Regions from separate parts of the Homo sapiens genome. Here region 1 is linked to region 2. The links come from fine-mapping of genetic effects on gene expression. Tissue or cell type: thyroid. Region 2 holds a variant in brackets; the other region holds the start of a gene. All regions are shown on one strand. Distances are between the middles of the regions. Region 1 holds the start of SH2D4A (SH2 domain containing 4A). Region 2 has its middle 29 kb from the start of SH2D4A.

Region 1 (8,334 bases), 29 kb before region 2:
AATCTTACCACCTTGCCATGTGCTCTCAAATACGTTGTTTCTCCATACTATGTTCAAACAGTCTTAAACTTCAGACAAGTCACTTAGCTATATTATGACCATCGTAGTGTTGTTGGTTTCTCTTCGTTCACCTTGTCATTGATACAGTTAGATTTGTAATGCCCCTCTCACCATCTGGGGGCCTCCTTCAGCTTCCCGTCTTCCTCCTCTTCCGTGCAAAGTAGTTCCTTGATTTACACCTGTCTTTTGAGACAAGCACGCTCAACAGCTAGGCTACCACAGAGTGGTGTGCATACTCAGCTCTTAGATTCGCTGACTGTTCATTGTGAAGCCAGGCCCTTGATGAAACTACACCTATCCCTACTGACTGCAACCTATCATCTCGGCAGCATTCAACTACCAGAATCCAAATGGAACCAAACATTAAGAGAAAAATTTTAAAGGACTAAAAGTAATATCACGCCCTTCCCAGATCCACTTGCCAACTTTGTATTTTGCATTGAGATACCCTTAAAGGCTTGAACAGCCAAAAAAAAAAAAAAAAAAAAAAATGGATGTCTTGTCAAGATTTCTTGACTTTTGACTTTTTGTTTCTAGCAGCTTCTCAAAGGGTGGAGCCAATGAAATCCACAAGCTCCAAGATAAAGTGGTAAGAAAGGAGACAGAATGACTCCTTGACATTCCAGTAAATGTCCTTAAGTTCAATGGTTGGTTTTCGCAGAAATCACACACGGCAGAAGATGAACAGTTCAGCTGGGGTTGAGACTTCTGCTGTGTTCCCCATTTTGAATGCAGCGAATCCTATTCAAGGCATGGGTAGATCCTAGAATCTAAAACCCTTAAAGTGTCAAAGTCATATTCCTCCAGTCTCCCCCGCCCTGCATATTCCTGATAACACAGCTAACACTTCTTGTACCAGGCACCATCTTAATTAAGCACTCTACATGTGTTAACTCACTTAATCTTCACAATAACCCTTGGAGTCCAGCCCATCACTATGCCCATCTCACAGATTAGGAAGATAGAGCACAGGTCAGCAGCTGGTAAGCGGCAGAGCCGGGCAGTCCAGCTCTAACTCAGCTTCACTGTAATACACAACACAGAGGCCTTTTTGTGAGTTTATTTGTGTGCCCAGAATCAGAACAGCAGGATGTGGTGCCATGTATGAAATTTCAGAATGGAAGCCAGCAAATTCCTGCAGCAACAGAAACGCTGAACTGATGGTGCTTGACACAGGGCAGAAGCCTCCTCCTGGTCAACTGTAGCTAAGCTTAGGGGAGGCCAGGTGCACACACCCCAGCCAGGAAGGACAGCAAGGAACCGACTGTCACACTGACCCAGGTGTGGACATTGCTTACCCACGTATTCACCAGACACTTAGTCCCATTTCCCCTTGCACTTAGTCATCCACTTCGTCTCTACAATTTCCCCTTCCAAACAAACACTAAGAACAGCACAAAAAGCACAGCCTCTCACATGTGCAAGGAGGTTCATGGCACCTCTGTGATGAAATTCTCACATTATTTCCATTTTTATGTTGTTTTGTTTTACTTTTTATAGCAAACGTGGATTTCTAACATTAAAATTAACTAGTTCATCTTGAAGGAAAGACACTGGCTTCCTTGTGCCTCCAAGAATACTTGGGGGACCCAGCCGACAACTATCTGTGGTCAGGCCGTTGACGATGTGGCCATTCTGCCACTGCTGAATGGTACTGGTGTAAATCACCTGTCCCCCTCACCCTCTAATTCCCAACCCCTAACCCCCGCTCCAAGGCTTTCTCAGACCCCAACTCAAGCTCAGCACAGTACACCCAAGACACCCAGAGGCACTCCAGCCTCAACTCCCAGCTCCGCCTCTAGTGAGCGGTGTGACTCTGTGCTGTCACCTCACCTCCTTGGGACTCAGTTTCCTCATCTGTGAAACGAGGACTGGTTCAGTCTGTGACTTCTAATGTGTGGGTATCTGACATAATCTACTGTGAAGCGAAGGAGCCTGGTGGAGCCAGGGTAGAAGAAATAGAAATCAGGAAATTAACTAACTAGGGCTTTCCTACTTTCACTCCCTGACAAGGAAGTAATCATTGCTGATACTGATTCAAACTCAGAGGACTTTCCCATACTATATCAAGGGCAGCAAATCTCCGGTTATTCAAGATCCAACAAAGGAATAGCTCAGCTAACACAGCCCCTTTCTTAAAAGAGAGAAATGATAAGCAACAAGCCCACACCTGCTATTTATTCTGAACACCAATTGCTAAAAGGTCAGAGAATCCGTTGTTTTCCATGATACCATAGATTTGGCCTGATTCTCACACCTTCACACTGTTCTACAATACAACTGTCTTTTGAATAACTCTGAGACCTAAACAAAATACAATTTTAAAAGGCCTTAGATACAGGCTAAATCATAAAAATAGTAGGCGGGCACAGTGGTTCTACATGTAATCCCAACACTTTGGGAGGTGGACATGGGTGGATTGCTGGAGCTCAGGAGTTCAAGACCTGCTTGGGCAACATGGCAAAACTCCGTCTCTACATAAAGTATAAAAATTAGCCAGGCGTGGTGGCCCGCACCTATAGTCCCACCTACTTGGGAGGTTGAGGTGGGGGGATCTCTTGAGTTGGAGAGTTTGAGGCTACAGTGAGCCGAGATCGCACCACTGCACCACAGCCTGGGTGACAGAAGGAGACCCTGTCTCAAAAATTAAAAACATTAGGTCGGTGCAAAAGTTATTGTGTTTTACATGGCCAAAAAAAAAGTAACTGCGGTTTTTTTTACGTAAAAACCGCAATTACTTTTGCACCGACCTAATAAAATAAAAAATAAATAAAAGTATTGTGGTATGGACAGTGTAACTATAACATTAACAATACAGTTTGAATTCTAATTCTTTTAAAACAGCCAGCTCTGTGGTCCAACTTTGTTTTCTTATTGAAACTTTATCTTATTCATCTACCAGCAAAAGGGCTGTTTTTGAGGATGAAACAAATTACCAGAGATGACAGCAGTTTGTAAATATATACTATTCTTCAGAAATTTGAGATTACTGTACACACAGATTTAGTATACATAGAGAATTCCACTCATATGCCAAATCTATGCCCCTGTATGCTTTCCACTTATTTATTCACTATTTTAAAATAATCGTACCCAAGTCGTTGTTTCTATTAAACCAGCAATCAAACGAAAGCCTTTGGAGCGATGAGGAGCATCTGTTTGAAAGGGGGAGGTGCCACGCTTGCTGCTTCTCTAAGCTCCCTGGGAAGGGAGAGACAACTCAGAAAACCTACAAACTGTAGCTCCTTCCGGTGCCCGCGTGACCCCCGAGTCCAGGAGCGGGCAGGGGCGCCGCTTGGCTGAGCGCACTGGGCACCCGGTCTGGGTCTGGGCCAGCCCCGCCGCTGCAGCCCGAGGGAGGCGGCGCTGCACTGGCCTCCGCGCGCTCCCAGACCCCACGTGGGGGCGCCCCTGGGTGCCGGTGCGCGGGGAACGTGCTGCGGGGGTGCTGCGCCAGCTGCCACCGTTTCCCGGGACTTCCCTCCTGGAAGATTTCCATGCGCAAGTCGAGGACGTGCTCCTGCTAGGAGTCTAGAAACTCTAGGCCAGCCCGGACCCTCCCGGGGCCTGCACTCCCCGCGGGTGGAAGCACGCGCCGCGTGTCCCTGCCGGATTCCAGAACTTCCCCGAAGGTCCTCAGCCCCGGCAGACCCTCTCCCTCGAAGTTCCCCCGCCACCCCCTGCAAGCCCCCAGGCCCCGGGGACCGCCGCTCACCTAGCCAGCGGCTCCAGACACCGGACACCGGACACCGGACACCGGACACCCGCCGCGGCCGCTCTCGCCGCCCAACCCCGCACCTGAGCCCGCCCCGGGCGCCGCGAAGGGGTGGAGGCGGGGGTGAGGCTTCCGCCCGCCCGCTCTGGCCCCTGCGCCTCCCATGCACCCATGCAACCTCCGAGGAAATTCCCTTCCCCCTACTCCCACCCCACGCACACTCTCCCCAAAGCCTCGCCCCACCCCCAGCACCTACCAGTGCTGGGCGCCCCTGGGCAGGGTGGCTCGATCACCCGCCACATCCACTTGGCCGCCAGAAGCCGTCGGGGAAGGGAGGGAGGGAAAGGCAGAGGCGTCCCAAGCGGCGCAGGCGGGCTGAGCAAATACTCCGGCCCGGACGCAAAACAGCTCTTGTAGCCGTCCCGCCCGCGCCGCCCCGCCGCGCCCACATGCCGGGGTGACTGGCGGGGCGCAATCGCGGCCCCACCCGGGCGCCTGGAGGCTCTCCAGGGCCACTCGTCGGCGAGGCTGCGTGGCCTGCGCATCTCGGGCCGCCTGGCCCGCGCGCTGTCCCCGAGCTGCGGTAGTCCGGGGTAGGCTTGTCCTCTCCTCTCTTAGTTCATGAGACAGGGATCTGCAGTCTGTGATCTCTTGGGGACTGCAGGACTTAGATTAAATCTGCAGATCTGGGCCTTTCCACGTTTCAGAGCTCGGGGTTCCTTGCTAGGTGTAGGGTAGGAGGGTGCGCAGGCCCCACTTGTTCACTCTGCTTGGGTGCTGCAGGCCAAGGCGACTCTGGAGCTTTTTTTTTTTTTCTTTTGTTGACATTAAGTAAATGATCAAACTCTTTGGCACTTGTCGGTACACGTGTGGCTTTGTAGGACAAGATGAAGGAAGGAAAAGGCTGGAAGGAAGGAGACCGCAGTCAACACAGACAGGTGGAGAAAATGAAAGAAAACTGGGGGAAAAGTTAAGATGCTGAAAGGAGTCTTGAGGATTGCAACAAGAACAGGTTGGCTTGGTGCCTGAAGACGTCAGGGAGGAGCTGGCAGTCCACAGTTAGAGGAAATCTTGGAGGAAAATTGAGCAGAAGCACAGTGGAAAGGCATTTCCACTGGAGGGCATTTTCCATCCTAGAGGAGCATGTGGAAGAAAACCGCCTGCTTTGGTGAACCCCAGATTTTGTGTATTGGGAGAGATGTAATAAACAGTAAACACCAGTAGTCCTCTCCACGGACTACCTGACCTCTTTAGGAGCCTGACCTGCTGGATTCAAACACAAAATGGCATTTCCCTGCCTCTCCAAACTGCAGAAGCTGTGCAGAGTTACATCAAGCCTCGGGGCAGGCGGCATTGTCAGGAAATAAGACCCAGCTATTTAGGAACAATTCCAGGAATCCCATCAGGGAGGAATTTCTGGTGTAAGGCTTAGTTCCTACTGCAGTTTAAATGATAGCATATGGGGTGCTTTAGGCTGGAGTGGGATTGGCCCCTGGAAAGCTGCTATGACGAGGTCAGAATGAATCCTAGCCCTGCATGGATGCATCAGTTGAACCATACAGGGTGGTTTATCAGTTAGGAAAAATCCCACAGGACACTGTGACAGCCTACCTTCCTCACACCCAGTCTCTCTCCAGGTCCTGGCAAGTCCTTCCTTATAACAGCTTTATCACTGTGCTACTAACCTCTGTACCTCACTTTCCTCCTCTAGATAAAGAGTGTCTGCCTCGGTAAGTTGTCAAGAGGGTTAAATGAGATGCTACATGCAAAGAGATTAGAAGAGCTCTTGGCATGTGGTGAGTGTTCAAACACATTCACTCAGATCAGTTCATATCACATTAAGGTACTGGAATTCCACATTCCTGCCATCTCACCCTAGGCTGTGGGTTCTGCCCACCATGCCACCTACCTTCCAAGTCATTCCCAGGGATCCTATCCTCCTGGTATTCACATCCTTGCATAGCTCCCTGCCACTTTGTAAAGGTTGGTATGCTTGACCAATAGAACCCGGCAGAAGTGATGATGGTCTGCCACTTCAGAGATTAGGTAAGGAAACACCTTGGTGCTTCTATCTTGAAATAATATTGACAGCCCAAAGGAACGCACGCTGTACACAAATAATGCAAACAACTCAGAACCCAGACTCTCTTCCCTTTTCTCTCATCTGCCCATTTCCATCCTTCTTGTCTCGTGGCTCTTTCCTATATTTGCCATGAACTCTTCTTCTTCTCTTATTTTTATAGTTTCTTCTCCATCCTCTTCACTTGGTCTCCCCTCTCCTCTATCACCTTCTCTTTTTGTTTCCTTTCTGCTGACTCCTGGAATTTCCTCTTTTAATTGGCATGGTCTGGAAGAGAAAAGGTAGATGTTTTTCCCTTAATTTCAAAAGTAGACAATTCGAATTTTTTTTTTTTTTTTTTTTTTTGAGATGGAGTTTCACTCTTTTTGCCCAGGCTTGGAGTGCAGTGATGCAATCTTGGTTCACTGCAACCTCGGCCTCCTGAGTTCAAGTGATTCTCCTGCCTCAGCCTCCCAAGTAGCTAGGATTATAGGCACCTGTCACCACAACTGGCTAACTTTGTATTTTGTTTTTGTTTTTTTTTTTTGTTTGTTTGTTTTTTAGTAGAGACTAAGTTTGACCATGTTGGCCAGGCTGGTCTCAAACTCCTTACCTCAGGTGATCTGCCTACCTTGGCCCCCCAAAGTGCTGGGTTACATGCGTGAGCCACTGCGCCTGGCCAAGAATGTTTTATAATGCTCTAAAAAAAAATCAGGTGGCCTATTACTTGTGGGGCCTTCAGTTACTTTTTCCCTCCCTTTGGGCCAGTACTCTCAGAGGAAAACATTTCCCCCCTCCATGATCTAGGATGTGTTATAGGGACGAATGTGGGGAAGACTGCTGACAGGGGCTGGCCACTGACGAGTCACAGACATGGAACATGGTAGCACCAACATGTGTTCAGGAATGCTCTGCTGCAGCGTTCACTGCCAGAACTTAAAGAGAAAGCTAAACATCTATTTATTGGTTACTAATATTTTTAATTTGTCATTTATTCGTGGTAATGAATACCATGAAACAAATAGCCTACATTTTAATGGATGTGTTCCTTGGCCTTCCTTTTGGACTGTTGCTTAGGAGCCCTGCTGCCCAGGGCTGTCAAGTAAAATGGCATAGCATGGCCCTTGTACAACTGTGGGTGGGCAGGGGACAAGCACAGAGATCACTATGTGTAAGGCGCCCCCTGGAGTTGTGCAACACTGCCAGCCCTATTGTTGCCAGAAAGACAGGATAAGCCACTTTGCACTTTTTCTGAGATAAAGATTAATCCTTATTTCAGTTCTACAGACAATGAAAATTGCCTTCATATGTTTTCTTTATAAAATAGAGTATTTTTCCTGTCATATTTTATGATCAGCATCAGAAACCTCAACCACTTTTTAACTGTTAGAGCAGGTATACACTTGTACCACAGTGAATGTAACGTACAAATGAAAGAAAAATACAAAAACATTTAAACTTTACTAAAAACTGATCAAATCTCAAAATAAATCTTAATCAGTTCATCAATCATTAAAAATATATTTAGGGTCTGCTGTGTTTTCAGCTCTCTGTGAGCAGTTAGATTTGATTTTGAACTATTTTCATTTGTGTATGGTTCTGTATGGGCCTTTATTTCTTCATCTTCATAAACACCAAGATAAATTATTGGTCTTTACATTCATCTTTGAATCAATTACATTACTGTAATATTTAATGTTTTTCCAAGAGTTACCTTTATGGAGTTCTTTCTCTAAAATCCACACTCTGAGTTGCTAATTAGACATTTCTGGTCTCTCATATGTGTGTGTGTATATATATATATACATATATATATGTGTGTGTGTGTGTGTGTATGTGTATGTGTATATATGTATGTGTGTGTATGTATGTATGTGTGTATATATATGTTTTAGATGGAGTCTCGCTCTGTCTCCAGGCTGGAGTGTGGTGGCACGATCTTGGCTCACTGCAACCTCCACCTACCGGGTTCAAGTGATTCTCCTGCCTTAGCCTCCAGAGTAGCTGAGACTACAGGTGTGTGCCACCACGCCTGGCTAATTTTTTGTATTTTTAGCAGAGGCAGGATTTCTCCATGTTGGTCAGGCTGGTCTCAATCTCCTGACCTCGTGATCTGCATGCCTCAGCCTCCCAAAGTGCTGGGATTACAGGTGTAAGCCACCATGCCCGGTGGTTTCTTATATTTCTGTAATACAGTGACAAGCAGCCCGTGTCTCAGAGAACTGCTCACCTCAAACTTATGGGTGGAATTGGACAGTCGCTATCCCAACGATATGGGACATCTGCAGTGGCCTATGGTAACCAGTGCTTTTTTATGGGTCAAAGCTCTGAGAAAGGAGCAGAAGCAAACTTTTTCTAATATTCTGGTGTTCCTTGGATCTTCCCAGGCAGTTTTGATAAGGTCTACTAGACTCATAAAATCAAATCTCATCTCTTTTTTGGACCAGATTCAGAAATGCGTTTCCATTTCCTAGCTTCTCTCTTACAGGCAATCTTTGCA
Region 2 (8,334 bases):
CCTCCCTCCCATTCCCTTCTCTCCCTCCAATCCCCTTCCCTCCCTCCAATCCCCTTCTTTCCCTCTGCGTCTCTCAACTTGGAATTTTCAATTTCTAGAACAGGCAGTCTGCTCAGCCCAGGGTGGGTCAGCTGTTCACACCTGGATTCATCACTATGACCAGGAAGATTGGATCTTCAAGTACAGCCATAGCTATTGGCTCACCCTGTGTTTTGGGTAGGAATGAAGCTAGGTGACAATTTCCAGAGAAAGGCAAATAGATGAGATCTGGGTGCCCACTCCAATATGTTTTTAGTTCTACCTAAAGTTTAAGTAAAAATAATGTAGTTATGAAAATATTTACAAGTAGGTAAAATAAATGCCTTAACGTATGACTAAAGATGAATAAGGTTGATCAGGAAGAGGTTCTTGGAAGCAAGAAGGTTTATGAATGGAAACTTAAAGATTTGATGAGTCGCTGTCTATTCCAGGTAGAGGGAAGAAAATGCACAGAGACTCAGAGAGTCATTTTTTTGGGGAGAGCAACCACTTTGCTGGAGTAGCCCAAAACATTAAAGTCAGAGAATAAAGAGCTTTAAAGTTAATTAGATTAGAGGTAAGATAATTTGGCAAGGGCTTGTAGGTGGGAGGCTACCCAGGGGAGCAGCATGTTATAATGGAAAAAGCATTTTAATAGCGTCCAGGAAGCCTGGATTCTGCCATGAATTAGCAGTTTCTGTTTGGGTAATCAAGTTCCCTTGGCTTCAGTGTAGTCACCTGTAAAAGAAATCTATAATTCCACCACGGGCAATTGCATTTTATTTGTTTATTTAAAAAGTGTTCATTGACCAACTACTATGTGCCAGGCAGAACTCTAAGCGCTAAAAATTCAGCAATGAAACAAAACAAACTGCTTTCCCTTGTGCAGCTTTATTGATACCTAATCAGTAAAGTAGGAATCAGAACAATGATTAATTCAGATACATGACGATCATAAGTCTTGCCTTATTTTCTTTTTCCTGCATTTCCTGTATACACTTCCTTTCCAGAGCCTCCTCTTGGGGCTACATGATTCTTTAGACAGCTCTCTCCCTCTGCTCTATCAGATAGTAGTTTCATCATCAGAAAATATTTGCCAAAGTCTTAAATTGGAGTTCTTGAAGAGTCCCCCCAAAATAGTGCCACTCTTTTTCTTCCCCCTCAAGTTCTGAACTAATTAAAAAATAAGGGGAAAACATTTTGTTTCCAAGATGGCGGATTGGAGACACTGTTAGCCTGCCTCTCCCCTTGGAAAGACAAAATAGAGTGTAGGGATTTATGCTGTGAACTTTTTTCAAAGAAGCAACACAAGAACTTAACAAAACAACGGAAAGAAACTACAGACCCTTTGAAAGAAGCAGAAGGCGGCAGCCTACACCATGAATGAGCCAGGCAGAAAACTGTGAGTCCCTAGAGCATGAGGTGGAAGACGCTGCCTCCATGATATTCACTCCTACTGTGGGGCCTGGCAATCCAGGCCATGGGGTGAGGCCTTAACCCTGCCCAGTGCTGATTTTGTAAGCGGTAGGGAGTGTATGAGAAGGAGCAGCATTGGGATGTGCTTTTTGTGCATTCCCAGACTCCAGCAGGGACAGAAGGAAGCCATTCATGATCCTACCTAATAGGGGACCTTGCAGAAATCAGCCAGCTAACTCAGGTGGTGGTCACAGGTTGAGAGAAGCTCCCAACTGAGATTTGTGATATAATTTTGAGTGGTGATGAACCCCCTTGTCCAGAACTGAGGCACAAGCAGTGTGTGTGCTTTAGCCACACGTGCAGGAGCTGATTGTGCTGTTTCACAGGCAGACCAGGAGAAGTGTAGTTGGAAAACCTCAGTTTCTGTCTGGATAGGGAAGGTTTATAGCCTGGGGCAGTTCTGGGTTCAGAGTGCAGGCTAACTCCAACCCAGCTAGCTGCTGCTGGTGGAACACTGCATGTGTGAGACCTGCCTTGCCAAGCGCATGGGAGCTGGATAGGGCTTACTGCTGCCTGCTCCTCCCCACTCCTTGTGCAGATTCTTCTGTGCAGCAGAGGCAGCTTTGGTCCACCTGGATTATTACCCCAGTAGCCAGGGAACCGCCCTCCAATCTCCACTGGGGCCGCTGCTTGCACCTGTACATGGGAAAGTAGGATACAGCCTTGCCTGGCCCAGCGCCACCTGATTTTGTCCCTCTACCTACCCTGGTAGCTTAGTATAAAGGACAGGTAATTTTGAGAGCTCCATGGTGCCACCCATTGTCTGAGACACCAGAATACCTCCCCTGGATAACATAAGGCAAGCACAAATCCCACCAGTACCACTGCAACTGGCATTCTTTTGCAAGCACGCACCACCTCCTAGCTGGAGGCCAACCAATACATGCCATTACAACATTTGCAGGTACAGTAACACAGTGCCTAGGAACGAGTACACTTTTGCACAACCTTAGCTATTACCCAAGCCTGCATCACCCTGCCTAACCAGGAAGGCTTCACTCTGTCTACATGACCAGTACGTTACCAGTACACCTGGCATTTGAGAAGAACAACATACTAAGGTGATTTATAAGGAAGGAAATCTCACAGAGTCTACATCATTCCCATTCCAACACCATCAGAGTTGTTGCTGGTACCTGCTGCTGGAAGGCTAAAAGAGAGGTCACATCACTGGATCTTTTGTGGACATCCCCTAGCACCAGCCTGAAGTGTGGCAGTCCCACTGCACAGCTAGACCCAGAGAAGCAGCAGGATTCACAGTAGTCTAGCTCTCAGGGATTCCTACTTCTAAGGGAAGGGAGAATGCACCACATTAAGGGAGCATACTGTGGGATAACAGAATCCAGTCGGTAGGACTTGAGTCCTGGAACTTTCTGCTTACAAAATGTTTCAGCAGAGACACAAGTGGAATGCTGGGCTCAGTGGGGAAAGTCTGCAGCTCTACCCCAACATTCAGGCAGCCCCAAGGCTCATGAAGCATCTTGGAAAAGGAGACTTCTTCTTCCTCTCACCCACCACTGCAGACACAGCGGAGGCTTCGCCCATGGGAGCTCAGCATGGGTGCAGCTGTAGACAGCCTTTCTGTAACACTTCAGGGTGACTACATCCCCATAAGAGGAGTGCCATCCAGGTTTAAGTTTGCATGAGGGGTACAGTCACAAGACCCATCTATGTGGAACATCAGCATTCCTGCAGATAAAAAGAAGTGCTTGTTTGATTTGAATGGCTAGAACACTAGGTAAGAAGTGTGACTGACAGGTGGATCACCTTCCTGCTGGCCTAGTAGGAGAACTAAAGTGGCTCCCATCCTTTCCCCAAAAAGGTCTCAACACATGTCACTGAGAGCTTCCCCAGCTGCCTCTGGCAAGGCTGGGTCCTCTGCCCACCATTGGGTGTTATGTTTACCCACCTGCTTTAGCCACAGCTACTTTTTACCTGTGGAAACTTCCTACTGGCCTGAAGCCTAAACTATTCAACCCAGTGAGGAAATAAATGGGGAAAAATAAATAAATAAGTGCACACCACTGGGTAATGAGATAAGCTTCATGAGACCTCTGCCATTTCAGCCTCACAGGAGACAGTGAAGCCACTCACACACAGAGCACATTGTTACTACAACTAGCACCTGAGAATGTGATCACACAGAGACTCTCTATAGCCAAGGAACTCATACAGAATCTTCACCACTGAAAGCACCCAGAGCCAAATTAGGTTACAATAAACTATAAATATTAAAGCCACATCCTTAAGGGGGGAAAAAAACCTGAAATTTTTTTTAAAGCACAGTCAAATGAAAAAAAATTTCAAAATGATTAGAAGAAATAGTCTATCCAAATGAGAAGAAACTAGAAAAATAATTCTGGCAATATGAAAAAATACGGTTCTATAACTCTCCTCAAAAGATCAGCAATGAATCCAAACCAAGATGAAAGCTTTGAAATACTAGATAAAAAATTCAAAAGGT[T/C]GATTATTAAGTTATTAAAGGAGATGGAAAATAAAGGCAAAAACCAACGTAAAGAAATTAAAAGAATTCAGGGTATGAATGAAAAATGTTCTAAAGAGATAGATATTTTAAAGAAAAACCAATCAGAACTTCTGGAAATGAAAAATACAATTAGAAAATTACAAAATGCAGTTGAGTTTTAACAATAGACTAGACCAAGTAGAAGAAATAATTTTAAAGCTTGAAGACAAGGCTTTTGAATAAACCCTATCAGACAGCAGAAAGAAGAATTTAAAGAAGGAAACAAAGTCTTCAAGACATACAGGATTATGTGAAATGGCCAAACCTAAGAATCACTGGTGTTCCAGAAGGAGAAGGAAAAGCAAAAAGTTTGGAAAATGTATTTGAAGGAATAATTGAGGAAATCTTCCCTTGCCTTGCTAGAGATTTAGACATCTAAATATAAGAAGCTCAAAGAACTACTGAGAGAGTTATGAAGAAGGACATCACCAAGGCATATAGTCATCAGATTATCTAATGTTGACATGAAAGAAAAAATTCTGAGAGCAGTGAGACAAAAAAGCATCAGGTAACCTATAAAGGGAAATCTATCAGACGGACAGCAGACTTCTTAGCAGGAATTTTATAAGCTGTAAAGGATTGGGCTCCTATCTTTAGTCTCCTTAAAGAGAATAACTCTCAGCCAAGAATTTTGTATCCAGCAAAACTAAGTTTCATAAATGAAGGAGAAATAAAGTCTTTCTCAGATGAGCAAATACTGAGAGAATTTGTCACTGTCAGACTAGTCTTACAAAAAAAAGTGCTAAAAAGAGTTCTAAATCTTGAAGAAAAAAAAAAAGGTTCACATGCACTAGAGTATAAACTCTTGATAGCCTAAAATTTACAGGGCCTATAAAACAATAACAAATGAAGAAAACAAAGTAACTAGATAAAAAGCAACATGATTTTGGGAACCGTACCTCACATCTCAATATTAACAGCATTAAATGTAAGTAGTCTAAACGCTCCGCTTAAAAGATACAGATTGGCAGAATGGATTTTAAAAATCACAAACTTAATATGTGCTCTCTTCAAGAGACACACCTAATACATAAGAATTCTTACAGATTCAAGGTAAATGAGTAAAAAAACATTCTGTGCAAATGGAAATAAAAGTGAGCAGGAGTTGCTATTCTTACATCAAATAAAACAGACTTTAAAACAACAATGGTAAAAAAAGACAAAAATGGACATTACATACTGATAAAAGGATCAATTATACAAGAAGATATAATGATAAAAGGATCAATTAAACAATGCAATAACAGTGGGGGACTTCAACACTCTACTGATGGCACTAGACAGATCATCAAGGGGGAAAGTCAACATGGAGACACTGGACTTAACCTGCACTCTGGGACAAATAGACCAAACAGATATTTACAGAACATTCTACCCAAGAACTGCAGAATATACATTATTCTCATCAGCACGTGGAACACTCTCTAAGGTAGGCCAGATGATAGGCCACAAAACAAGGTCAGTAAATTTTAAAAAATCAAAATTATGTTAAGTATCTTCTCAGTCCACAGCAGACTAAAACTAGAAATCAGTTCTAAAGGAAACCCTCAAAACTATACAAACATATGGAAATTAAACAGTATGCTCCTAGGTGATTTTGGGGTATGAAATCAAGACGGAAATTTAAAAATCCTCCAAAATGAATCGTAACAGTGACACAAGTTATCAAAACCTCATAACCTGTAGTTATAAATGTCTACATCGAAAAGTCTGAAGGATCACAAATTAACAACCTAATGTCATACCTCAAGGAACTAGAGAAACAAAAACAATCCAAACCCAAAAGTAGCAGGAGGAAGGAAATAGCAAAGATCACAGAAGAACTAAATGAAACTGAAACAAAAAAATACAAAAGATCAATGAAATGAAACATTGGTTTTTTGAAAAAATAAACAAAATTGATAGATTATTAACTAGATTAACCCAGTAGAAAGAAGATGTAAATAAGCTCAATTAGAAACAAAAATGGAAACATTACAACTAAAACCATAGAAATGCAAAAGATCCTTTGAGACAAATATGAACATCTTTAGGCACACACTAGAAAATCTAGAAGAAATGAATACATTTCTGGAAACATACAATTCTCATAGCTTGAATAATCAAGGAAAAATAAAATCCTGAGTAGGTCAATAACAAGCAGTGAGACTGAATCAGTAATAAAAAATTTGCCAACAACAAAAAAAAGCCCAGGGCCAGATGGATTAACAGCCAAATTCTACCAAACATACAAAGAAGAATTGGCACCAATCCTACTGAAATGAATCCAAAAGATTGAGAAAGAGAGAATCCTCCTAATTCATTCTATGAAGCCAGTATCACACTGATACCAAAGCCAGGAAAGAACATAACAAAAACGGAAAACTACAGACCAATATCCCTGATGACCATGGATGCAAAAACCCTCAACAAAATACTAGCACAGTGAATCCAACAGCACATCAAAGAGATAATTCACCATGATCAAGTGGATTTCATCTTAGGAATGCAGGGATGGTTCAATATACACTATACAATAAATATGGTCCCACCACATAAACAGAATTAAAAACAAAACCCATCTGGTTATGTCAATAGGCACAGAAAAAGCATTCAATAAAATCCAGCATCACTTTATGATAAAAACCCTCAAAACACTAGGCATAGAAGGAACATGCCTCAAAATAACAAAAGCCATATTTGACAAACCCACAGCCAACATCATACTGAATGAAGAAGAGTTGAAAGCCTTCCTCTTAAGAAATGGAAGGAGACAAGGATGCCCACTTTAACCACTTCTGTTCAACATAGTACTGAAAGTCCTAGCCAGAGCAGTCAGGCAAAAGAAATAAACGGCATCCAAACTGGAAAACAGGAAGTCAAACTGTCTCTGTTTGGTGATGATATGATCATATACCTAGAAAACCCTAGACTCCTCCAAACGACTCCTAAATTTGATAAATGAATGCAGTAAAGTCTCAGGCTACAAAATCAATATATGCAAATCAGTAGCATTGCTATACACCAACAATGACAAAGCAGATAATCAAATTGAGAATTCAATCTTTTTCATATTAGATACAAACAAATAAACAAAAAATCTAGGAATATACTTAACTAAGGAGATGAAAGTTCTCTACAAGAAAAACTACAAAATACTGCTGAGTTAAATCACGGATGACACAAGCAAATGGAAATACATCCCATGCTCATGGATTGGAAGAATCAACACTGTGAAAATGACCATACTGCCCAAAGCAATCTACAGATTCAATGCAATTCCTATCAAAATAACAACAAGATTTTTCACAAAACTAGAAAAACAATACTAAAATTCATATGGAACCGAAAAGAGCCTGAATAGCCAAAGCAATCCTAAGTGAAAAGAACAAATCTGGAAGCATCACTTTACCCAACTTTAAATTATACTACAAGGCTATATAGTAACCAAAACAGCATGGTACTGATATAAGAGCAGCTACATAGACCAATGGAACAGAATAGGGAACTCAGAAATAAAGCCAAATACTTAAAACCAGCTGATCTTTGACAAAGCACACAAAAATAGAAATTGAGGAAAGTACACTCTATTCAACAAATGATTCTGGGAAAACTGGATAGCCATATGTAGAAGAATGAAACCTGATGCCTATCTCTCATCATATACAAAATCAACTCAAGATGGATAAAGACTTAAGTCTAAGACCTGAAACTATAAAAATTCTAGAAGAAAACCTAGGAAAAACTCTTCTAGACATTGGCCTATGCAAATAATTTAGGACTAAGACCCCAAAATCAAATGCAACAATAATCAAAATAAACAATTGGGGCTTAATTAAGCTAAAAACCTTCTGCACAGCAAAACAAATAGTCATCAGCGTAAATAGACAACCCACAACCTGGGAGAAAATATTTGCAAACTATGTATCTGACAAAGGACTAATATCCAGAATCTACAGTGAACTCAATCAAATCAGCAGGAAAAAAACAAATAATCCCATTAAAAGTGGGAAATGACATGAATAGACATTTCTAGAAGATATACAAATGGCTAACAAACATATAAAAAATGCTCAACGTCACTAATCTACAGAGAAATGCAAATTAAAACGACAATGGGATAGCACCTTACCCCAGCCAGAAAGGCCATTGCTAAAAAGTCAAAAATAATAGATGTTGGTGTGGATGTGGTGAAAATGAATACTTATACACTGCTGGTAGGAATGTAAATTAGTACAACCTCAGTGGAAAACAGCATGGAGATTTCCCAAAGAATTAAAAGTAGATCTACCATTCTATCCAGCTATCTCACTACTTGGATATCTACCCAAAGAAAA

Evidence for each region. PIP is the estimated chance that this variant, and not a neighbour inherited with it, causes the effect.
Region 1: it holds the start of SH2D4A, and the variant in region 2 is fine-mapped to the expression of SH2D4A in thyroid (GTEx, PIP 0.96).

The regions. Positions count from the first base shown.
Region 1 is chr8:19,309,521-19,317,854 of GRCh38, reverse strand. It overlaps SH2D4A (SH2 domain containing 4A), which reads right to left and starts at 4,162. Exons shown (of 10, transcript NM_022071.4): 1 at 4,032-4,162. It overlaps LOC105379306 (a long non-coding RNA gene), which reads right to left. Exons shown (of 4, transcript XR_949550.3): 4 at 6,031-6,122.
Region 2 is chr8:19,280,814-19,289,147 of GRCh38, reverse strand. No RefSeq gene overlaps it. Among named protein-coding and RNA genes, the nearest start is that of SH2D4A, 29 kb to the left of the region's middle. The variant T/C (reference allele first, on the strand shown) is at 3,959.